Homo sapiens: one gene and its partners. The protein of the gene in region 2 purifies or fractionates together with the protein of the main gene of each other region. This does not show direct contact. Each region holds a gene or a part of one and is shown on either strand. Other genes may lie near its edges. The genes, in order: ZNF496, HPSE2, NAF1, EDEM2, PEX1, ANKRD17 and FRAS1.

The links.
Region 1: the proteins of HPSE2 (region 2) and ZNF496 purify together in Homo sapiens (affinity purification with mass spectrometry; one large-scale study listed by BioGRID and IntAct). This does not show direct contact.
Region 3: the proteins of HPSE2 (region 2) and NAF1 purify together in Homo sapiens (affinity purification with mass spectrometry; one large-scale study listed by BioGRID and IntAct). This does not show direct contact.
Region 4: the proteins of HPSE2 (region 2) and EDEM2 purify together in Homo sapiens (affinity purification with mass spectrometry; one large-scale study listed by BioGRID and IntAct). This does not show direct contact.
Region 5: the proteins of HPSE2 (region 2) and PEX1 purify together in Homo sapiens (affinity purification with mass spectrometry; one large-scale study listed by BioGRID and IntAct). This does not show direct contact.
Region 6: the proteins of HPSE2 (region 2) and ANKRD17 purify together in Homo sapiens (affinity purification with mass spectrometry; one large-scale study listed by BioGRID and IntAct). This does not show direct contact.
Region 7: the proteins of HPSE2 (region 2) and FRAS1 purify together in Homo sapiens (affinity purification with mass spectrometry; one large-scale study listed by BioGRID and IntAct). This does not show direct contact.

Annotation. Positions count from the first base shown.
Region 1 is NC_000001.11:247,300,868-247,304,367, reverse strand, and holds part of ZNF496 (zinc finger protein 496), read left to right. Parts: intron 1-3,091; coding exon 3,092-3,500. UniProt on the Homo sapiens protein: DNA-binding transcription factor that can both act as an activator and a repressor.
Region 2 is NC_000010.11:98,718,353-98,721,852, forward strand, and holds part of HPSE2 (inactive heparanase-2 isoform 1 precursor), read right to left. Parts: intron 3,477-3,500; coding exon 3,305-3,476; intron 1-3,304. UniProt on the Homo sapiens protein: Binds heparin and heparan sulfate with high affinity, but lacks heparanase activity. Inhibits HPSE, possibly by competing for its substrates (in vitro).
Region 3 is NC_000004.12:163,142,891-163,146,390, forward strand, and holds part of NAF1 (H/ACA ribonucleoprotein complex non-core subunit NAF1), read right to left. Parts: intron 2,975-3,500; coding exon 2,892-2,974; intron 1-2,891. UniProt on the Homo sapiens protein: RNA-binding protein required for the maturation of box H/ACA snoRNPs complex and ribosome biogenesis.
Region 4 is NC_000020.11:35,133,837-35,137,336, forward strand, and holds part of EDEM2 (ER degradation-enhancing alpha-mannosidase-like protein 2 isoform 1 precursor), read right to left. Parts: intron 1,114-3,500; coding exon 902-1,113; intron 1-901. Other genes in the region: MMP24-AS1-EDEM2 (ER degradation-enhancing alpha-mannosidase-like protein 2), read right to left, coding at 902-1,113. UniProt on the Homo sapiens protein: Involved in the endoplasmic reticulum-associated degradation (ERAD) pathway that targets misfolded glycoproteins for degradation in an N-glycan-dependent manner.
Region 5 is NC_000007.14:92,511,521-92,515,020, forward strand, and holds part of PEX1 (peroxisomal ATPase PEX1), read right to left. Parts: intron 2,448-3,500; coding exon 2,328-2,447; intron 184-2,327; coding exon 60-183; intron 1-59. UniProt on the Homo sapiens protein: Component of the PEX1-PEX6 AAA ATPase complex, a protein dislocase complex that mediates the ATP-dependent extraction of the PEX5 receptor from peroxisomal membranes, an essential step for PEX5 recycling.
Region 6 is NC_000004.12:73,073,799-73,077,298, forward strand, and holds part of ANKRD17 (ankyrin repeat domain-containing protein 17), read right to left. Parts: intron 3,307-3,500; coding exon 3,142-3,306; intron 2,493-3,141; coding exon 2,433-2,492; 3' UTR 1-2,432.
Region 7 is NC_000004.12:78,476,823-78,480,322, reverse strand, and holds part of FRAS1 (extracellular matrix organizing protein FRAS1 isoform 1 precursor), read right to left. Parts: intron 2,509-3,500; coding exon 2,262-2,508; intron 950-2,261; coding exon 605-949; intron 1-604. UniProt on the Homo sapiens protein: Involved in extracellular matrix organization. Required for the regulation of epidermal-basement membrane adhesion responsible for proper organogenesis during embryonic development. Involved in brain organization and function.

The DNA of each region.
Region 1 (3,500 bases), on a different chromosome or scaffold from region 2:
AGCAGGTCATTTCCATGGGATTTTAAGGCTCAGCAATAACCTCTGGCTCAGTTCTCTGTTCTCCAGGCCCAGCAGGCTACTGGCCCTGCTCTTTGGAACTCAGAAGGAAATGACTTCACCTCCTGAGCCTGTACTCTCTGGTCCCATGATGACAGTGGCAGTCCTGTAACCTCTGAGCCACCTTTGGAGTCATTCTTCCCTTTTCTTGAAGGATAGTACATATTCATAGCCAGATAGATCTATCGGCCAGTTTGTAGAATCCCAGAAGTCCTAGCCTTCTTTTATTTCATCCCATCTCTTTTCCTTTCAGTTCCAGCTGGCAGTGTTTCTGCTGGTATATAATACTCAGAAACCCTGCCCTCCATGCAGTCCACAGGGTTGCAGGCCGTCAGACGAGGGTGTCCTCCATAGACCTTCCTGGATAACCTCATCTCTGTTCCTGGCTTCTGTTGAGATGGTTGATTGGATCCGTGAATCATACCCAGAATCTCTTTAACAAATGATGAGCCAGCCACACTCTTGGTGTCTCTCCAGTGCACGCTTTCTTATTTTTTGCCGTATGGATAGACAGAATTTTCCAAATCTTGAAGTCATGGTTCCTTTTTGCTACAACAATTCCTTCTTCAGTTTATCTCTCTCATCTCACGTTTCACTATAAGCGGCAAAAAACTAGTCTTTGCCTTTGACACTTTGCTTCGATACCTCCTCAGCTCAGTATCCGAGTTCCTTACTTACAATTTCTGTTTCCACAGAACAGTTGAATATGGTTTGGCCAAATTCTTTGCCACTTTATAATTGGAGGATCTCCTTTTCTCCAATTTCCTATAACGTCCGTATTTCTACCAGCCACTTCCTCAAGGCTTTTTAAACATGCACTTCAGAACTCTCCTGGCCTCTCCCCATGACCTAGTTCTAAAATCACTTCGACAGTTTTTGGTCTTTGTTTTAGCTGCACCCTACTTCCTGGTGCCAAAGTCTATGTTAGTCTACTGTGGCTACCATAACAAGGTACCACAGGCTGGGTGACTTAAACAACAGAAACTTACTTTCTTACAATTCCAGAAGCAACAAGTCCAGAATCAAGGCTTCAGCAGAGCTGGTGTCTTCCAAGGCCTTTCTCGTCTTGGAGACGGCTCCCATCTTGCTGTGTCCTCACAGGGTCCTTCCCTCTGTTGAAGTCTGCCTCCAGTCTCCTCCTCTTAGAAGACCAGTGATTTTGGATTGGCCCCACCATCTGACTTCATTTTGACTTAATTACTTCTTGAAAGACCCTATCTCCAAGTAATCACATTCTGAGGCTCTATGGGTTAGGGCTTCATCATGTAAATTTTCAGGGGGACACAATTTCGCCCATAACATGCACTGTCTGCTCTCATAATTCCATCTCCTCGCCCAGTTAACAAGTAAGAGATCTTAGCGGTCCACCTTGTCACTTTGTTTTCTTCTTCCACCCAAGTCCATTAACAGAAGTCAACTGCTGATCAAGTACCTTGTCATCGGCAGCCTGGTAAAAGTTACACCTTGCTCTTGTCTCCACCCCATGAGGTCCACAAAGTACATCATACACATGACCTCACCTGCCCCACCAGCAGCTTAGAGCAACGGGCTGCCACTGTCATTCTCACCTTGTAGACGAGATGACCCAAGCTCAGAGAAGCTGTCTGGCTGGAACGAGGTTCCTGCAGCTCGAAAACCAAGAGTCGAGATAAGCGTCAAACATAGCCTCTCGGCGGGCGCAGTGGCTCACACCTGTAATCCCAGCACTTTGGGAGGCTGAGGCAGGTGGATCACCTGAGATGGGTGGCTCGCTTGAGCCCAGGAGTTTGAGACCAGCCTGGGCAACATAATGTGACCCCATCTGTACAAAAAATTAAAAACACATGCACACACACAAACACAATCTCTGTCTTCATCTGATGATTTCCCTCCTATACTACGTGGGTTCTTGGCAGACTCAGTACCCACTCCCAGACTCATGTTCCCCCGACCCCCTTGTGACTGAGGGACAAATGCCCCCTCCGCTTCCACCATTGCCCTTTATCTCTCTGCTCTCCATAGCCTCTGTGTCTTCCTGCCCTGCTTCTGTTTGTCCAACTTCTCCTGTCCTGAGCTGCTCTGACTAGCCAGGGCTCTCCTCCCCACAGTCATGAAGCCCAGACTAACCATGTTCCTACTCTTATCTGGGAGGGCCTGGTTCACTCCCCCCAAGTTCTAGATTTGAGTTCTACATTTCACAGCAGTGAGGAAACAGGCCACCTGTATGGTGGGCTCTGCTCCATAAGCCGGGACCTCAGGCCGGGCTCTGCACTGTCCACCCAGCCCCGCCCCGTGGTTCCACCTTCCCAACATCACAGACTCAGGATGCAGGAAGTCCAGAGCAGCTTTATCCATCACCACCTGTGGCCTCAGAAATGCGGTGCTACTGGGAGCCGGGGAGCTGTGGGGGACCCAGGACTCTGGGCAGTCTGGGACTGTTGAGCAGCCTAGCAAGGCTGAGTAGCATTTCAGCCCTCCTTCCTGGCACAGATCACCTTAGTTTATGTGTAAACATGGCAACCAATAGGTCATCGGGTTGCGTCCAGGAGCAAATAGGAATGTGCATGTCAAGTCTAGCACAGTCCCTGGAGCATGCAAGTGCCCAGCACATGATATGTGTAGGTTGTAGAGTCTTCCTCTCTCAAGTCCTTTCACTATCCTGATAGAGCTTTCCCCCATGCCTTGTTAAGTGCATGATCTGTAAATGGTCAAGGCTTTACCCAGATAAATACAGACTCCTAGAGCTTGGGGGGATGGGGTGGTCTCCGTGGGTAGAGAACAAAAGGGTTGGGGGTGGAGATAAGGGAAAATGGCTGGGAAGAGGGAGAGCAAGGTGCCCAGCATGCTCTGGACACAGCGGGGCCCATGCTGAAGATTTCTTCCTCACAGGCTACACCAGTGGCCCCTGCAGGGCTGGCCAGGCCGCCCCGGTCACCGAGGACCATTGTAAAAACACGGGTTTGTAAACTCCAAGCTGAGTGTTCCTCCGCCGCGGTCATAGGGGCTGGGATGTGGCCTGTGCAGCGTCGCTGACCTGCATGTTGCCTTCCTGTAGCTGGCGGCAACCCGCGATCTCTAGAGAACAGCCTGGATGAAGAAGTGACCATCGAGATCGTTCTCTCCAGCTCTGGGGACGAGGACTCCCAGCATGGCCCGTACTGCACAGAAGAGCTGGGGAGCCCCACAGAGAAGCAGCGCAGCCTCCCCGCCTCCCACCGGAGCAGCACCGAGGCCGGAGGCGAGGTGCAGACCTCCAAGAAGTCCTACGTGTGTCCGAACTGTGGGAAAATCTTCCGCTGGAGGGTCAACTTCATCCGGCATCTGCGGAGCCGCAGGGAGCAGGAGAAGCCGCACGAGTGCTCGGTGTGCGGGGAGCTGTTCAGCGACAGCGAGGACCTGGATGGGCACCTAGAGAGCCACGAGGCCCAGAAGCCTTACCGGTGTGGTGCCTGCGGGAAGAGCTT
Region 2 (3,500 bases):
AGTTCATATCCTAACTGGAAAGACAGTCCTGTTTAGTTCTGTAACTACCTCAATAAAAAAGCTTACCCAGCAATCCCACCTATGGGTATGTATCCAAAATAGAGGAAGTCAGTATATCAAAAATATTATGCACACCTCAATGTTTATTTCAGCAATATTCACAATAGTCAAGATATGGAATCAACCTGTGTCCATTAAAGGATGAATGGATAAAGAAAATGTAGTATATATACACATGGAATACTATTCAGCCATAAAAAGAGTGAAATTCTGTCATTTTCAGCAACACGGATGGAACTGGAAGACATTATATTAAGTGAAACAAGCCAGGCACAAAAAGACAAATATTGTATGTTCTCATGCACATGTAGGAGCAAATGAAAAAGTGGACCTCACGGAGGTAGAGAATTGGTGGTAACCAGAGGCTAGGAAGGGAAGGAGAGAGGGAGGATAAAGAGAGGTTGGTTAATGGGTACAAAAACACAGTTAGATAGAAGGAATAAGTTCTAGTGTTCAATAGCACAGTAGTGTGACAATAGTTAACAGTGGCTTATTGTATATTCCAAATAGTGAGAAGAGATTTGGAATGTTCCCAACACAAAGAAATAATTTAAAAATTGTCATAAATATGTACAACAAATACGTACGATTTTTATGTATCAATAAAATTTTTTAAAAACTTAGACATTGGTATAGTTTCATAAAACTGAAGTTAGTCATGATTTATAAAATCAACATAAGCCATTCAAATCATTATTTATACAATGCTTTTCAATGCTTCATAATTACAATTATGCATACTGTTTTTACGTTAGATGACCTTAAAATCAGTTGTTGAATAAGACAGATACTACTCATTCAACAAGCATTTATAACACACTTACTATGTTCCTAGATTCTGAAGATATAGAATGAATAAAACAAATGGGGTCCTGACCCTACTCTGTGGTTTATCATGGCTGGCAGATATATAAACAAATGTTATCATCAATTTGATAAGTGCTATAGCAGAAAAATACAGTGCCATGCAAGGACAGAGGAGGCCCTAAGAAACCCTGCCTCAACATGTCAGAGAAGATCTAGAGAAAGGAGAAAAACAAGAGGAGAGGCTGGTATTCTTAACAAAATGAAACAAAATAAAAAGATGTAAAGGTATAAAAGAGTAGGGTATCTTCCAAAATTTACATTAAAAATTTACTGTACTTTGATGTAGTTAGATGTAATTAGAGGGCAAGGGGGTATCACTGCTTATTAGCTGCAAATTTAGGCAGGCGCAGACCCTAAACGTCATGAGTGCATCTGAAAGGGTTTGGATTTCAAGCAGAAGTGACTTGACCAGATGTTGCATTAAAAAAAAAAAAAAAAAAAGAAGAAGAAAAAAAACTATTCTGTAATCCTAGCACTTTGGGAGGCCGAGACGGGTGGATTACCTGAGGTCAGGAGCTCAACACCAGCCTGACCAACATGGCGAAACCCCATCTCTACTGAAAATACAAAAATTAGCCAGGCATGGTGGCACACACCTGTAATCCCAGCTACTCGGGAGGTTGAGGCAGGAGAATTGCTTGAACCCAGGAGATGGAGGTTGCAGTGAGCCGAGATCATGCCACTGCACTCCAGCCTGGCTGACAGAGTGAGACTCTGTGTTTAAAAAACAACAATAAAAAATAACTACTCAGGAATCTATATGGAAAGATTATTAGAGTTTGAGGCTAGCTAGATACCAAGAAATCACTTAGAATTAAAAACAGTAAGGTTGAAAATAAAATAAGGTTTAAAATAAAAATGAAAAGAAAATGGGATATGAGGGATAATAAGAAATCAGAAATTACAGTACTTAATAACGAATTGAGTGTGTGAACAAAGGAAAAGACTGATCTAAAACGGCTTCCATGTCTGGGTCTCAGGCAAAATGGTTATTGCATTACTAACCAAATTTGGGGGATAAGAGGAAACATAAGAATTTGGTTGTGTTACTAACCAAATTTGGGGGATAAGAGGAAACATAAGGATTTGAAAATGCTGAGTTATTTTCATAGTTAACAGAATTCAAGTTAAAACAACCATGCAACATGATCTTGCATTAATTAAAATAGGGTAAATTAATAAAATTGACAACATTTATTGCTATAGATATTAGGGAAAAAGATATACTAATACATTGCTGCCCTGAAACCTGATGAAATTGTTCTGAAAAAAATTTGGCAACAAATATAAAAGCCATAAAAATGATCATATACTTTGACCAAGAAACCCTACTTTTTGGAATATAGCCCAAGGATGTAATTCAAAAGAAATAAATAACCGATTTGTATAAAAATGTTTATAGCTGTGCTATGTATTACAAGCAAAATTTGGAAACAGTCCAATGCCCAACAGTGAGGGAATGCTTAGGCAGACTTTGGTGCACTAATGCAATGGTATATTTTATTGCTATTAAGAATGACAATATGAGAACTATGTAGAAATAAGGAAAGGGTCATGTGAAGCAATGAGTAAAAAATGCAGCACTCAAAATGATGCATATACAATGATCACAACTATGTAAAATTATATCTGTATAACCAGGAGGATTAGAAAGGAATACAGAGCTGGTAATTTAGAGTGCTGACATTTTTGTTATTGTTAGTTCAAGTTGCTGGGGATGTTTATGTGTTTCTAGTTATATTTCACTGTATATTTAGTACATACACATTAAGAGAGATAAATCTCTATTTTTTTTTTCTGACACATAAAAGAAAAATTCCTGATCAGTATCTTTCCTTGCCTTGCGTGATTTTTAAAAATGATTGTCAGATTCAGTCAAAACTAAATAGGAAAAGTGGTAGCAATTCTCTAGAATATCTGCTAATAGGCCTATTAAGACCTTTAATCTACCAGTATTTGTAGTGTTTTGCAACTTTTTAACCCAGCTTTGCTGGCCAAGATTTTGTAAAGCTTCACTTTCTACAAGAGGACACTGGTATAGAGTAATTTTTTTTTGTTTTAAAAAATATAAAATGATGCTATAAGATGCATAATATTAATTGTGGTTTTTCAAACAATGTTTCCTTTCCAACCCATCCTAGAGATTGTGATATACCTTCCCCATCCCACCACCCCCTGTTGACTATGGAAGGCCTAGAAAGATGAGAAAGATGGAGAATCTCTGTCTTAGAGTGGGTGAAGCCACTATGGAAAGAGTCCCTCCTTTTTTCTTAAGACCAAAATAAATAAATAAATAAATAAATAACCAAGAGAAATGCAAATACATTAATTCATTAAATGAACAATGTCATAAGAAAAGCTAAATAATCTGACCTACCCATCTAGGAGGGCGATGACATTCTTCCTCGGCCGCCCAATATTAGGGCCATATAAGCTGGCTCTGGAATAAATCCGGATGGGCTGCAACAGGCTCTTCAGCTGGATGTAATCCTTTCCCAACTGGCTGCCATTTACTGCCCGGCCATGCATGGTCCGATAGTTATTTGGCTCTAGATTAAAAGCAGACATGTAAG
Region 3 (3,500 bases), on a different chromosome or scaffold from region 2:
CTCCATAGGAGGCACCCATATCCCTTCTTGGTCATTCCACCCAACTTAGGGGATTCTGGAACTTCCATACTACCTGATTCAAGATAAAAGCAAAGGAAGTAATAGATTGTAAGGAGAGTATAAGAAACTGAATTTGGAAAAGTAGCACCTGAGACCTTTACTATGAGGTGGGCAAGCAGCTTTCTTTATATCTTTAAAACTAGTATATATTCTGTAGGTGTTCATATAAAAATTTAATCCAACTGATGCTTTATACTTGCCCTGTCATTGAGAAGTGGTTTTCTAGGTATCCTTTCACTTGGCTCTAGGTGATAATACTCACCATTTTTTACTCAAAGTCATTATATTTTTGCTACAAGATCTCCAAGGATTCCTATCACACACAGAGGTTAACACACACTGTAACAACAACGTGGTACAGCTATAATGTAGGATCTGCTGGGAAAAATAACTGACAAGCAGAGAAGATATAGAGTGCATGCAGTTCCCCAAATTCCATCCCAGCGTAGGCTGGGCTTAAATGTTCTGTGTGCACCATGGCAAAAGTTTCAGCGGCGTAGAAGGCCTGTTTGAGCCAGCAGGCTGGAGGTGCACAGACAATACAGCAAAAGGGAGAATGAGCTGTACTCTCCTCCCCCTCTCCACACACATACCATGTCACAAACTTACTAAGTTATCTAGAGGGGGCTAGGTAACTCCCAGTTTTTCTATTATCTAGGAGGGGACTAGGTAAATCCTAGTTTCTCTAAGTAACAATAAATATATCAAGGATCTCCAGGCCTAGGAACAATGCTGGCAGGCTGTGCCTGTGAAGGGCCAAGGTCTGCATGCTGCCACCTGGGAACAGCCTTCAAACAATGTCTCTCTAGGTGAGCCAGCTTTGGGCTAAACTGCCAAAGGAGAAAGGAAATGAGGAAATGAACCTTTACAACTATTCAACATTGTCTTTTATCAATCACTTTGTGCTTTTTTCAATTCCCATCAACAAAAATGAAGAAAATACAGACGAATAGAGTATTCTAATCTATTAGTTAGGCAAACTGATCATTTCAATCACTGTGTGTATTACTGTATCATAAGTTACCTTGAAATATGTCATGAGAACTGAGGGGGTGGGGAACAACACTCCATCAATATAATACAGAGTCCTCTAGAAAATCATCACATCCTACCAAACAAGACAGTAATATAATCGTTTAAAAAGGAATCAGTAAAAATTTCCTACCCACTGATATATGAGAAGGAAACAGATTTCACTAGTTCATCAAGGGAACTAGCAATTCTTAGGATTAAAGGGCAAAGGTAGGAATAAAAATCTGAGACTGTCCTCCCTTAATCAGTGGGGAAGGCAAAGGGAGGTGGAAGGGAAATGAACCTGGGCTGTAAACTCATCCATTTCAGCTTTGTGACTTTTTAGCAAGGTTTCTCAAGTTTTAAAATAGAGGTAATTTTACTTCCTTGCAGGGTTTCAGTGAACTTAAAAAGATAACATAAATATCACTGTAGCTGATTACTATCGTGTTACTGAAGAAAAGAGGGAAAAGATGTTCGATGGCTTGCTACTGAAGGTAAAACTAATTTAGTATTTAGATAAGACATGCTAATAATCTAAAAGGTACTCAGTTTCATATTCTGGTTATTGGTTTGTTTAACAAATACTTTCTAATCTCTACTCCCACTACTATTTTGGAGAATCATTTCAAGGCACTTAGATTTATAATCAAGTATTTTTTAAAAACTTGTCACAAAGTCTTTCAAAAGCATTTATAAAGCATTCTATGTAAAATTTAGAAATAGATTTAATTTTTGCCAACAGGCTTATGCCATATAACTAAAGTTAGAGGTGTAAATGTTATATTTTATCTGACTCCTTTCAAATCTAAATGACAGCTGAATATTAATATTAGTCACATTTACAGGTCTAGAAATTCAAATGTAGTGGGAAATACAAAAAAAATGTCTGTTTAGAGGTTTTAATTTAGCAAAGTGTTGAGTATTTTCAGATTAAAATTGTCTAAGTTAGGTACTAAGAAAAAAAGACAACTGTCATGAAAATCACAAATAGCTCCTTTCTTATTTGTTTGTATTCAACTCAATACACATTTACTTGGCACAAATAATTTACAAAGAACTGTACTAGATACAATGGGGAATATCAAGGTGAATAAAACTGTCCCTATTGCCAGGAAATAAATACTTACTTAGTATTTACATTCTTGATTTTAGAATGTTTATGTCTTCTGCCAACCAGTCAGAATTGCCTAGTTGCTGAGTAAAGTGCACAGTTTTCTACATTAAGGTGGACATGCAGGGTTGTTCCATTAGAAAGATGTTAAAAGGGACCAAATCTTATAGTAATTACTTGAATGCACATATTTGTAATTCCCCAGGATGTGCCTACAGTGACAATTCATTGCTGTCAGTGAAATATTTTTCCACTTGGAAAAGATTCCACACCGAGCTTCCACCTGAGGAAGTCAAAGTCTGAAAAGTCTGAGAGCCACTATTCAAAGGAGCTCACAAAACAAAAATGCTTAAGAGCTACTATACTATGGGAAGTCTTCTTCACTCAGCTGAGTATCTGGACGGTAGGAAACGATGTGTTATGCATTACGTAGACTCACTGCCTAGCAAGTTATCTGACAAACACTAGGAAAGAATTCTATATATGTGTATTTAATAACTCATGTGGCAAAGAGTAATAATCAGTATTAAACCAATTTACAGACAGATATGAAGTACTAAAGGAAATCAAGAACGTACTGAAATTAGAGAGCTCTAGATTGTCCATCAATTAAAATAAATAAACTCTTCTGAGAACTGATGGGGAAAGTCAGAAAAAAACAATAAATAAATAGAATAATTTGTAAGATTTGAAATGTTTTACAAACCTTTCCTGCTGCTTGTCGATCACTTTTAAAAATTACAGTCTCCTCATTAACTGGAGGTAGGTTAGTCATAGATTCAATTATTACTGAAAAATAAAATAGATTACTTCAAGATTTACTTATAAGAGAATGTAGAATTTTAATGAAAATCTAAGCTTTAATTCCAACATAATTTAAAAAAAAATTGAAGGTGGGATTATTACCTCATTAACCATTTTCTCTTCAGTAAACAAAGTCTACTTATTACCAAATAGCACTGGGAAATGTTTTTATACCTATTTTTAATACAAAAAGCTATAATTCTAAGGGAAAAAAATTAAAATGCAAATCCCACAGAAAATCTGAATCATCCATTAAAGATTCAACAAATTCAAGCTATGTACATATTCTCAAGTAATTTTTACCAAAAATAGTGTAATCACGTTTAGTTGTAAAACTGTTTTAGAAGAAATTAGTCTTCTTTCTCACTCTTAAAAATTCTTTTCTACAAAGCACTGTTTAGTTACTGGTATATGAAAAAGTTAAATAAAAGGCTTCACAAAAGCATCTTCCTATGAACAGAAGAAGTAAAAGTGCTAGAGCTCACAGTAATTTTTATCATTACATGAAAAT
Region 4 (3,500 bases), on a different chromosome or scaffold from region 2:
CACCAGACTGCATAAAATGTGCCTAGACCTAAATGCAGTCTTCCTAAGTCAGAGTGACTCAGCAAAGTTGGTATTAATATATTAACGTTACTGCTGAAGTAACTGAGGACCAGAGAGGTTGAGTGACTTGCTCAGGGTCACACAGTTTCGATGTAGCAAGGCCAGGGCTTGAATCCAGTTCTGACTAAATCCAGTGTTATGTCCTGGATGGCTTTGGCTCAATTACTGTTAATCTTATTGATTATCCCATTTAGAAGCTGAAACTGACCTTAGAGATCATCTGGTCCAAAGTGTGTTCAATTTCCATGGGTTAATAGTACTGGAAGATAAAGGGAAGCTCTGGTGTTAAATAAGTTTGGGAAATGTTAAATTAAACAAAGTTGAATAGATTTCTTTACTAGAGGATTTTTATTCTGCTCATGTGCATTCTGACTCTCCAAAAAAGGGGGGGATATTATATCTAATATTCCCCTAACTTAATTGGCCAAGACTCATTTTTTCATGCAACTGCCACTCAGTATCTCTCAGAACCGGTGTCCTAAGAAACACAGCAAATACAGATAGACGCTAAAAATGAAGGCCGGACGAGCTGATGATCTGAAGCCGTCAAGTGAGTCAGGGGCATGAAACATACGACCCTCTTCCTAGAAATCAGAGAATCTCAACTGGTCAAAGCTGAATGCAGCCCCTGCTGCCTGCCAGAAACGTGCTTTCCCACTCTCCTCCCCACTCCAAGCCAAACTTGAATTGGAGGCTTGGTCTATTTTTGGTGTCCTGAGCCCAAATCCTGGACCACTCCCAAGGTCACCCTAAGTTTTCCTTGGCTTGACTGCAACTTATTGCTCAGAGCCCTGGGCCTCGTAAGCAGGGACTCAAACAGGAAGGGCAGCAGCGAACCTACCAGCCCGATATCTGACCGGCTCTCCCAGAGGCGCATCAAAGCCACTCTGGCCACATCTTCGAACACCGGGTCACCAGTGAGGCTGCTCAGGGTGGCAAATTCAACAATGAAGGTCCCAATCCCTGCCGTACAGGTGACAGGGGTCTCTCCTGGGTTCACGCCATGAAGTAAGTTCACTGTTCCATATGGCATGCCAGTGGGGGTCTGAAAGGCTGAACAATCGACAAATTATGATCCCGGACAGGAGCAGGGGGATAGGGATAGTTCTGATACACGCCCAAAGCCTGGGACCTTAGCCAGCACTTCCCTCTTTCTCCTGGGTATCCTGCTAGAGTCTGAGCCAGAGAAAGATAAATGTCATAACTGGAGGGCCCTGAGCAGCCACCCAGCCCAGATGCTGTCAAACACTGCTCTGCATAACCTTGGGTTCCTGCTCATCATGAGGGGGCAGGGAGCAGGCTGTGCTCCACACACACTCGCTTTAGCTAGAGAGCTTTACCTATTTTTATTTATTTTACACTACGCCTTCAAAGCCCAGGCAGGTAACTTATTGTGATGCAGGCAGGGTTTAAGCCACAGAAAGTGGTGGGGCTTGTGGCACAATGACAAGAGTAAGCCCCGTTCAAAGCCATTCATAGACTTTTGGCTCACGCCTATAATCCCAGCACTCTGGGTGGCCAAGGCAGGCAGATCACTTGAGGCCAGGAGTTCGAGACCAGCCTGGCCAACATGGTGAAACCCTATTTCTACTAAAAATACAAAAATTAGGCAAGCGTGGTGGTGCACGCCTGTAATTCTGGCTATCTGGGAGACTGAGGCACGAGAATCGTTTGAACCCAAGAGGCGTGGGCTGCAGTGAGCTGAGATTGCACCACTGCACTCCAGCCTGGGTGACAGAGCGAGACCCTGTCTCAAAATAATAATAATAATAAACAAAGCCATTCATAGACTTTAAATAAAGATCTCTGCTTTAAATAAAGAGTATAGGGGCTAAATTATTTTTAAAGGGAAGCAAAATAGGATATAAACCACTAAACCACGGATATAGTATGACCCTCGATTTATAGGTAGGGAAAACCATGCCTGTAAAGAAGTAATTCAGCCACAGGTCACACAGAGAGAGTCAAACAGAGCTGGGATGGGAACGCCTCCCCTGTGCCCACCCCAGCCCCAGTCCAGTTCTCTGCCCGCCCCACCCAAGTGGCACCCAAGTGCCTTCTGGTTCAAGACGAGAACTGGACAACCAGCCAGAGGCAGAGATTTCCTCTCTGGGCCTAAAGGTCAAACAACTCCAGAGCAGCCTATGCGTCACCAAACTGTGAACAAAGGTGTCGACACTTCCAAGAACCACAGGGTCTAGCAACTGTGTCTGCCACAGACAAGAAACTTGCAATCTGGCAGGCACCAGCGGGAGAGCAAGTCACAACCAGGAAGGGCTCTAAGCAATATTTCAGAAAAAGTCAGGCTGTAATAAAAAGAAGAGGAGTGACAAAATCCTGTTTCTTGACCTTTTTTTATAAAATGACCAATGACCAAAAATAATTAAATTATAAAGGAGGAGCAGCTAGGCAGAGTTTCCAGAGTTTCCTCCAGGGATGAATCACACAGGACACAATGTCTGCAAGGAGACGCTCAAGCCATGAGCCATGAGCCATGAGTGAGACCTGAACCTAGCTCACCCGCTATCCTCAGCTCTCCCCCAAAGGAGAGGCAAGTGCTATGTGAGAAGGATAAAGAGGCCGGGTGTGGTGGCTCACGCCTGTAATCCCAACACTTTGGGAGTCCAAGGCAGATGGATCACTTGATCCCGGGAGTTCAAGACCAGCCTGGGCAACATGGTGAAACCCCATCTCTACAAAAAAAAATTTAGCCATGCATGGTGGCATCTGCCTGTAATCCCAGCTACTCAGGAGGCTGAGGTGGGAGAATCAACTGAGCCCAGAAGTTCGAGAGGCTGCAGTGAGCCATGATCACGCCACTGCACTCCAGCCTGGGCGACAGAGCAAGACCCTGTCTGAAAAAAAAAAAAAAAAAAAAATTAAGAAAGAAAAGGGATAAATAAGTGAGATGGCCAAGAGGTGATGGAAAGCACAGTGTGACGTGTCTGGGTGTGAACAGTCCTCAGAGCCTCCACCACACCCTGAAGGGAACACAGTGTACAGTTGATGCTACTGAGCCTGGTGTTACTGCCCCACTAGACAAAAACATGGAGGCTTGACCTGCAGCCCTGGACACAGCTTAGCCACAAAACAAATCCCTCTCGTTTTAAAAGTGTTGGACGTTCTCTAAGCAGTTTCTCCTTCCTGACCTCATTTTAGCCTCTCCAAAACCCGATGTGGTAGGGAAGTAGAAATTATGATTCTCATTTGATAGATGGGGAAACCAAACTGTGGAGAGAGGCCAGACACAGTGGCTCATGCCTGTAATCCCAGCACTTTGGGAGGCCGAGGCAGCCAGATCACTTGAGGTCAAGAGTTTGAGACCAGCCTGATCAACGTGGCGAAACTTCATCTCTACTAAAAAATACAAAAATTAGCTGGGCATGGTGGCAGGCGCCTGTAATCCCAGCTACTCAAGAGGCTGAAGCAAAAGAATTGCT
Region 5 (3,500 bases), on a different chromosome or scaffold from region 2:
AATTAAAAATGTACAACTATTTAAATAGAAAAAAAAGTCAAAATAACAAATGTACTCACCATCTTTAGTTTCCAGCTTAATAAATTCTTCCTCTGATATTACCAAAGGAAGCATGGTGGTAGTAGACTGCTGTAGCCATGAATAAAATACAGTTTTTATGTCTTCTTCACTTATGTCTTTAGGCTGCCAGAAAAAGGAATAGTAATGAATTATCCTCATATCTGAACTTAACTTTAACACCCTTATTTTAACATCTGATCTTCCTAATAAAGTGTAAGCCTGACCAAACAAATCCAATGAAGGATGTTCATGTTCTATAGGCACAGGTCTGGGATTTGACATTACAGTTAGCACAATGAGTGCAGTGTAGCCTGAAGAAACATCTGTTAGGCGGAAAAGTTTTAAATGCTCCTTTTCTCTATGCCCAGTGATACATCTACCATAATGTGGCTCACTCAATAACCATTCCAACCCCATTCTCCCTTTCCTCCCTCTACGATAAAGACAGGAAAACAAATTCCTTTTTCTTTGAGACAGAATCTCGCTGTATCGCCCAGGCTGGAGTGCAGTGGCGCAGTCTCCACTCACTGCAACCTCTGCCTCCCGGGTTCAAGCGATTCGCTTGCCTCAGGCTCCCAAGTAGCTGGGATTATAGACATTGCAGCTAATTTTTGTATTTTTGGTAGACATGGGGTTTCACCATGTTGGCCAGGCTGGTCTCAAACTCCTGGCCTCAGGTGATCCGCCTGCCTTGGCCTTCCAAAGTGCTGGGATTACTGGCATGAGCCACCACGTCTGGCCTAATAATCTATTTAAAAAAATTTTTTTTGAGATATTGCCTAGGCTGGAGTGCAGTGGCACAATCATAGCTCACTGCAGTGTGGAACTCCTGGGCTCAAGAGATCCTCCCACTTCAGTCAGCCTCCTGAGTAGCTAGGACTACAGGCATGTGCCACCACATGTGTCTAATTTTTATTTTTACTTTTTTTGAAATAGAGTCTCGCTCTGTTACCCAGGCTGGAGTGCAGTGGTGAGATCTAGGCTCACTGCAACTTCCACCTCCTCAGTTCAAGTGGTTCTCCTGCCTCAGCCTCCTGAGTAGCTGAGATTACAGGATTAGCACCACGCCCCGATAATTTTGGTATTTTTAGTAGAGATGGGGTTTCACCATGTTGGCCAGGCTGGTCTCCAACTCCTGACCTCAAGTGATCCACCCATCTCAGCCTCCCGAAGTGTTGGGATAACAGGCGTGAGCTACCACGCCTGGCTTAATTTTTTTTTTAATTTTTTTGTAGAGATGGGGTCTTGCTATGTTGCCCAGGCTATTCTCAAACTCTTGGCCTCAAGCAATCCTCCCACCTCAGCTTCCCAAAGTGCTAGGATTACAGGTGTGAGCCACTGGACCCCACCTGCAAAGATCTTTAAGTTCAATATCTCATTTCCTGACTCTACCAGTATCCAAAGAATTAACTGAGTAAAAAGTAAAACAGTCTAGCACTCTTTTAGGCTACAATATTAATACTGAAACAACATGGGACAATTTTTTTTAATTACAACCACGTGGCAAAATGATCAATCTCTTAAAAGCCAAAAATATTCATATTTGCATTGGCAAATATAAGTATTTGTGTTATCATTTATTAAAGATTTCTCAGCTTCTCAAAAAGTTAAACATAATTCCTAGGTATATCCCAAAGGAGCTGAAAAGAGGAACTCAAACAGATACTTGTACACCAATGTTCACTGTAGCATTATTCACAGCAGCCAAAAATGTGGAAACAACCCAAGTGTCCATCAACAGATGAATGGATAAACAAATGTGGTATATGCAGTCAATGGAATAGTATTCAGCCATGAAAAGGAATAACATTCTGATACATACAACACAGATGAGCCTTGAAAACATTATGTTAAATGAAATAAGTCAGATACATAAGACAAATGCATACTTCTACTTATATATGAAATATCTAGAATAAGTAAATTCATAGAGACACAATATACATTAGAGATTACCAGGGACTGGGGAAAGGAGTGGACGGGGAATTATTGTTTAATGGGTACCAAGTTTCTCTTTGGGGTGATGGAAAAGTTCTGGATATAGATAGTGGTGATGGTTGTACAATATTATGAATGTAATTAATGCCTTTGAATTATACACTTAAAAATGGCGAACATGGCATATTTTATGTTATATATAGTTTAACACAATAAAAAAAGATTTGTATCAAAAAGGAATACAACATTCTTATTACTTAGCTAAAGCAACTAGAAATCTTACAAAACGTGTAAAAGAATTTTGATGTAACATATATATTTGAACTCACTAAATTCTCTCTAGGTTGTAACTTTAGAGATCTTGGAATTTTAGGGGTAACTTCCACTGGAGTTATCCTGACTACGGCATGCATTTCTATATTTAGTCTCTTCCTCAGGTCATCTGGAATCTGAAATTTAAAAATAAACAAAAATATAAATATATTCAAAGCTTGGTTAAGAAATATTTCATAGCATAAATATTGATATATTAGCTTCTATGAATTTAGGTGAAATAACAGAAGCTATCATAATAACTCATAGTTGTCTCAGTCCATGCAGGCTGCTATATCAAAATATCCTAAACTGGGTGGCTAACAAACGACAGAAACTTATTTCTCACAGTTCTCTTTTATAAGAGCACGAATCCCATTCATGAAGGCTTCACCTTCATGACCTAATCACTTCCCAAAGACCACACCTCCTAATACGATCACCTTGGGAGTTGGGATTTCGACATATGAATTTGAGGAGGACAAAACATTCAAATACCAACGGTGTGACCAGATGGATGTTCAGATATTGTTATACCATGAACATTTCAATCCTCTCCCTACATTTCTTTCCTTTTCTTTACATAATCTTCAGAATTAGAGCTTTAAATGTATGTATTTGACTGTATTCACCAAACCCATCTTTTAAACTATGGCACATTTACATTCAAATTAAATGTTATTTCTAATCTTTGAGCAGCCTTTATTTGTGAAAGTTAACAACCAATGAAGAAGCTGGAATGGCCAAAACTAATCACAGACAATCTGCCTGATTGTCTGATTAAATGATTAGATCCAGACAGAAACTTAATCTAAAAAGCAGAGTAAAATTTCTCCCACCCCCTAATGAAAATGTTCTAAACTTAGATTGTGGTGATGGCTGTACAACTAGTATAAATATACTAAAAATGACTGAATTGTACACTTTAAATTTTACCTCAGCCGGGCGCAGTGGCTCACGCCTGTAATCCCAGCACTTTGGGAGGCCGAGGTGGGCGGATCACAAGGTCAGGAGTTTGAGACCAGCGTGGCCAATATGGTGAAACCTCGTCTCTACTAAAACTACAAAAATTAGCCAGGCGTGGTGGTGGGAGCCTGTATCCTAGCTACTCGGGAGGCTGAGGCAAGAGAATCGCTTGAACCTGGGAGGCAGAGCTTGCATTGAGTGGAGATCGCCACCACACTCCGGCC
Region 6 (3,500 bases), on a different chromosome or scaffold from region 2:
TGGTATAAACTGATTATACAATAATTGAGATATTAACTACTTGGGGATTTAAGGTGTGAACTAACCCAAGTGTAATGTCCAAGAGTTAAATCATTTCTTAAAACAATGATGTAGTCTGCATATACACATACCACATATTTTCAAAATTAAAAAATAAAAGACCTTCATGGTCTCAAAAAGTTATGGGTTTTTTTATTGTTCAAATAAAAGTGCACTGCATTACATCTGAAATATAAAAAATGTATTTTAAAAATGTTCCTAGTACAGACTTCTAAAACCATGGTATTGTACTAAACAAGCCTGATCCCCAAGACTAAATACGGAGCATTTCAATCTATATCCCCTGGCCCCACAGGTTTGAAGTCAAGAAAATATAGGAGTTTTCCCCCTCCTTTTTAAATAAAATACCTCACCTAAGAAATTCAGTATTGTGAAACAACACAACTCATGTGTTGTAATAAATATTGGATAGCATCTGTTCTCCAGCAGGATTACCTTAAATAGAAAATAACCCTAGTTAACACAGGAAAGAATTAAGAAAAAAAATTTTATGTATAGAATAGTGGCAAGTCATATATAAAATACTTCGTTAAATAACATTATTACATCCCTTTTTTAGTAAAGTGCTATAATTTTATTTCATAGCTATATTTATTTGTAGGCTGTCTTTTAGCTCTCCCTTTAAATTTGGGCATATTAAACATAGGTGGAAAAACAAATTTATATATTTTAAGACCACTTCTTAAACTAAAAGATATGAGTGTACTGTTTACAAATTTCTGGATATGTTTGAGAAGTCATCTTTTTACTCTTTACTCAGGCTTTACTCTTTACTCAGATGGAAGAAATCATTTGATTTACTTGACAACCAAGGAACCATGTTAATATCATCAACTCTAGGTGATTTATATGAATTTTAGTTAGTTTTTATGTTTTACCAGTGTGAAATTTTATGTCTAATTAAAAAAAAAGAAGACAAATTGATATATACATTACTCGATTTTTATGCTTACTTTCTTTTACATTTCAACCATATAATTAATTTTTCCATGAGACAGGGTAGGACACATAATCTTCTTGGATACATTACTGTTTATTGTTTCAAGTGGATGGAATATATAAATCCCACTGAGTAGTTTAGTGTGGCCTTGTATCTTTTATAAACAGGTTAAATGGAGACTTTACACTGTAATCTGTGTATTTATCTGTCTACCATAAATTGTCTTCGTGACAAATGCAGAATTTCTTTTATTACTTGGCTCAAATTAACTGTTGATCCTTTTCACTGATAATATACAAGGGTAAAAAAGCAGGAAGCCTTTAAAATTGAAAAAAGAAATAAGATATTTTCCACTAAATTACTGAAAATTGAAATTTTTATGTTGACTGTTGATGACTGAAAAGCCAATGTTAAGAATCAATATCATCCAATATAAAATAGTACATTGAATTATTTAATAAACAGAATATTAAGAGCTTGTATATGCTGACTGGGAACAGTGGTGGCTTTTTAAATTCTCAGAAAGTTTAAACATTTTATAATTAGAAGAAACCACTGGTGATGATGAAGATGGTCCATCTCTGTAGCAGCCATTACAGTGAAAATCTTGACAGAACCTTTTCACTATCAGAAAGATAATTTTACTGGTATTAGTGGTAAAGGTAAGGAGAGAAAAAGGAGTGAGGAGATAAGTCTGTATTAGTTTTAAAAGTGAGAAAAGGTAATAAAACAACATGGAAAAGCCAGAAATTTCTTCTTCTATATGTGCCTTGCTACAAATAAACCAAAAAGAAAGCAAGATGGGTATTTTAAAAGCCAATGTGGGGAAACATCCAATGATAATGCCCATTATTTTACTTTATACTTAAATTACACCAGTAGAAAAGTTATGCTTATTAATAGTTTAATGTATGAAGGAAACATCCAGATTTCTGAATATGAAGGTACATATCTCACATTAATTTAAGTCTACATAAAGTAGAGCCTCTATACTGACATATTGAAATTTACTTTCTGCTTAGCCTTTTCTGTTATGTAAACAATTGTACATTTATTTGCCATTCTAAAACTTCAGGATCAAGTTTACATAATTTTGCTAAATTTCCGTGTTTGCTCAGAAGCAGTTTACAGTACTAAAACCAACCAGCCAAAGAACAGCTTCAACAGAAAGTTATGTCCAAAGGGGAAGAGGGAAAGAAAAAAAGAAAAATGATAAGAAAAATGCTAACTAAGGTAAAACGGATGATGATGGGGAATGGGCAGTCACAAATGTTCACAGAAAATAGGTCAGTTAGTAAGATCTTCTGCAAAAAGCCTACACACTTCAGTCAAGCACATCAGTAGAATGATTTGGGAGCATAATTTTTTTTTTCGGCCACTTGTGATTTCCTCCAAATGAAAAGGAATCTGCAGGCTAACAAGCTGATCCTCATCAGCCAAGCTGGTTCATATGCACACTGTTCATGTGAGGTGCCCAGGGTCCAGTCCACACCTATGAATATAGAGCATGCATTTTACAAAATATATATCTAGCATATATTTTATTAAAATAAAACTTTTAAAAAACTAAGGAGGTACTCTTCAATTTGCAATATACTAGGAACTAATGGAAAAAAATGATAAAAACCTTTTTTCTATTATTTTCCTACCTCTTATCCCTCAAACAGAATCTGATTTACAACCTTTAAAAAAAAAATCATTACCTGAGCATTTATAGATTCACGGTTGTGGAAGAAAAATAAATCAAAGATATTAAACATACACTAAACTAAAATATACAACCATTTATGTGAATTCTCAGAGTTATTTATAGTACCTTTAATAAATAACCTTTAGATGGTCTTTTCACACCACTAGTAAACTTTAATGTATAAAATCATATGACAGTCACTTTGCAACTTAAAATCTTTCATTTATTATCTGCTACCCAGTAGAATATACAATACCTTTCATAATTTTAGCCCCAAACCTGCCTTTGGTACCACTGCCCACAGCCCTCTGCTATATTGCAGCTATATTAGATTTCCTCAACTGCCCATATTCACCAAACTCTCTTGCTATCATGAGTTACCTGAATCCTATTTGTCTTTGCATTTCTTAAACACAAAACAACTGTTTATTCACTGAATGATCAGCCTCACCGTTTGAGGGCCATTATTTTCCGTGGAGCTGGAAACCATCTTTATCAGTGAGTTCCAAGAAGGGTCTGCAGCATGAGGGCCATTAAATATGGGTCCTCCAGCACCATCAGGGATAGGTGCTACTGGAGGAATCATTGCATTCCCATACACAGAAAAAGGCATACCCTTAAAAAAGGAAAACACACACATTAACATCCAAGTCATTGTTCATTTTTCCCAATATAATCAATAGCCTTAAAATTGATATTTGAAAGTTCACCTCATCCTGGGAATGTGTAACTTATCTAAGAAATCTAAAAATTATTACCCATTATATAACTTATTTTAACATTAGATTATACATATGCCTACTATATTCA
Region 7 (3,500 bases), on a different chromosome or scaffold from region 2:
CTGGCTTATTTCACTTAGCATAAGGACCTCCACTTCCATCCATGTTGTAGAAGGATGGTTACCAGAGGATGGGAAGAGTAGTGGGGGTGGGAAATGGTGGTGGAGGGGGGAAGTGGGCATGGTTAATGGGTACACAAAATACTTAGAAAGAAGACCTAGTATTCCCTAGCACAACAGGGTGACTATAGTCAAAATAATTTAATTGCACATTTTAAAATAACTAAAAGAGTATAATTGGATTGTACATAACACAAAGGATAAATGCTTGAGGTGAGGTGATGAACACCCCATTTATCCTGATGTGATTATTATATATTACATGCCTGTATCAAAATATATCATATAATCCATAAATATATACACTTACTATGTACCCACAAAAATTTACTAAAACAAATCAGAGTAAGAAAAGTGGATGGAACTCTCTATAATAAATTCCATGCTTGGTCTTGGCCAAGCATTATATAGTGCCTTAGACCAACAGTGGTATCCCTGAGGAATGGCATTCTCAATGTCTCCCGGATATTCTGAAACCTAAGGAGAAAACTGCTCAAGAAAGGAATCAGGAGACAGGTGAAGGAAACTCAGAGACACTCTCCATTACCTGCGTCCTCACTGACAGTGAAAGCCGTGTTGCCCAGGGACACAGTCGAGGCATCGTTGGGACCACTAATGAGCACCTTGGCTGTCGCCACCCTTCCAATGCGGGCATTGTCAGAGGCATCTGCCAAGGCAATCTCAAACTCTTCTTCCTCTTCATACTCGCTGTCATCAATAAGCATGACATCACAGGTGGACATGGTCACACCAGGCCCGAATATCACACGACTCGCGGCAGACATCCCTCTAGATTTAAAATCAGAGCCTGATTCTAGAGCATAGAGGCTACTTCCCATAGCTGACTTAGGGACTGTGTAGCAAATTGCAGATACAATGCTGCTTGCATCTCCTGAAATACAAATGGCAAAAAACCAAAGCATTTGAATGAGTGCTTCTCAGATTTTAAAACCTCTGGTAAGTTAATGAGCTTGGTCCCTCCCAAACAGTCCATCACTATTTCTGTTCAAACTCTGACATAAAACCTTCCTGAATTGCAGTTTCTTTGAGCCTGTGGTATAAACCACTTGAGGATTTAATATACCCCAGATACTTCATCAAACAACTCAAAATGGATTTCCTATTCTGTGAATTTTGTGCTCTGTTAATTTGCAAGACTCATTGCCCACCATCTAAGACCACAGCAGGTGGAAAGATATGACACATATTTGGTACTTTAAGTAGGAAAGTAATTGTGTCCTGAAGGTAGTGCTATAAGCACAGTTCACTGCCTTTCTGAATAAACTTCTATACTTTAATTCCCAGAAAGAAACAGGCTTATTTAAAAAGAGAAAGACAAAACAAAATAAAATCTGCCACTGTATACAAATGACTTTACTTATTAGGGCTGCCACTTCCCTTGGTGACAGCCTGTTCTGGGCCTGGCTTGGTGGCCCAGAGCAATCAATGAGGCTTGCTTGTTTTCCAAGTGGCATTACCAAGGGTTTTTGCTATCTACAGTATTTGTTACACTAATACCCAGTCAGCAGATTCAAGAAAGAAACCCAAAATCATCATTTACAGTCTTGTTGTGCCTTTGAATGGGGGTTCAATTTCCATGTGTTTTAAAGTCTCAATCTTGCACAATCAAAATTCCATATGATGTTTATTTTTATTTCCAACTCCTCAAGAATTGCCCTTTTATCAACATGCACAATTACTATGTATCAGTCAAAAATAAAACAAAAAAAGAATTGCCCTTTATTTCTTACACATAGTTTATTTCTCATCTGAGCTCTACATATGACTGTCACATAGGGAAATTTTCAGCATATTTCTGTCTTCCAAGAATAAGATGGAAAGCCAGTCCTTATGAACTGTAACTTCCCTCCTTGACCAAGGTTACTAAATATTTTATGGATTGGGTGATTGATTAAGAATACTGATTCATGAATAATTTAGAAGGCTAAATATAACCAGTCTTCTAGTCCAATTTAAGAGTAAATGGGAGCTCTAACAACTTGAACTAAGAAAAGAGGCTTTCTGATGGTAGTCACTATGGATAGAATCATCATCAGGGTTGTTGTGGGAACCAAATGAGTTAATAAGTGGAAAGTACACATGTGAGTTAAGATAATGCATGAGATGAGTGCTTAGCACATAATAGGAACTCAATAAATGTTAGCAATTATTATAGCTCTTTGTCACCTGTGGAACCAACAGACCTTTTCTTTCAATAGGTGCAAACAGAAAACCAGCGCTCTCGTTAACCCAGTAGATCTTCTTGTCAAACTCTAATGTGGGTTCATCCTCGGTATCGTTGATAATGACCTTCGCCTGGGTGAATTCCCCTAACAGGGCATAAGCTGGCATGCTGAGCTCCACAGTGAAACTCTCAACATTTTCAAACACGTCATCATCGTTGATGACAATGGTGCAGGACTTGGTGTCCTCTCGCTCATCAAACTGGACCTGTCACAAAGGAACCAACAAGAAGTTAAGCTGTGCCTCAGCTTCCCCTGCTCTGCTTCCCCAGGGCATCATAGGAAAAGAGCATCCAAGTCCAGTGGGCAGAGCACTGACTGAAATAGCTGGTTCTCCCAGCCCTGGTTCCCTGCTGCATCACCTGGAACACCCAGCCACCTCTTCCCATTCTTAACCTGTACAGGAGGGCTGCTTTATTGTATAAGGACATGAAGGAGCAAAATCTCTCCTACCATTGGTGACTGGAGAAAAACATGTAGTAACTCTTTATAGCCTGTCTTATTATCTCACTTGGGGCAGCAACAGTCATCATTTGATGACTCAGTTCCCTTTCTGGAAGAACTCTGGCCTTGGAGTATGAAGTTCTGTTCTCAGATCTGGTTCTGTTACTTCCAAGCTGTATTAGGTTATGAAGCTTTACAAACATCAGATTCCTCATCAACTAAAGAAAAGTCATAATATTCCTACCTCATACGCTTCTTGGGAGGACTAAAGGAGGTCTTGTATATGAAGGTGTTAAGTGTATTTTAAAGTACCAAACAAACATAAGATATTATCATTAGTATCACCATATTACTTACACAATTAAAATTGACATAGAATTCCAGTGTACTGAATAATGGAATTTAAATTCATAGAAAATTACATTATAAACAAGGTAGACTAATTTTAACTTGATATTTTGACTACACCCTTTGCCATTAAAATGTGAATCAATTTAGCCCAGTACAAAACAGAGAAATTATTTTATATGTACACAATTGTGAACTTATAGGGACTTATTCTGGTTTTACTTTGTTTTTTTTTTTTTTTAAAAAGAAAGAAATTAAAAATCTTCAAGTGAAACCACGACTATGGACTTGCCCAAAACTGAAACTGCAGGAAATGAGCCTGGACTATACTTTGTGTAAACGGAGATAACTGAAATATGTACAAAAAACAGACATAAATGTCTGGGGACACACAAATCTGCAAAAATT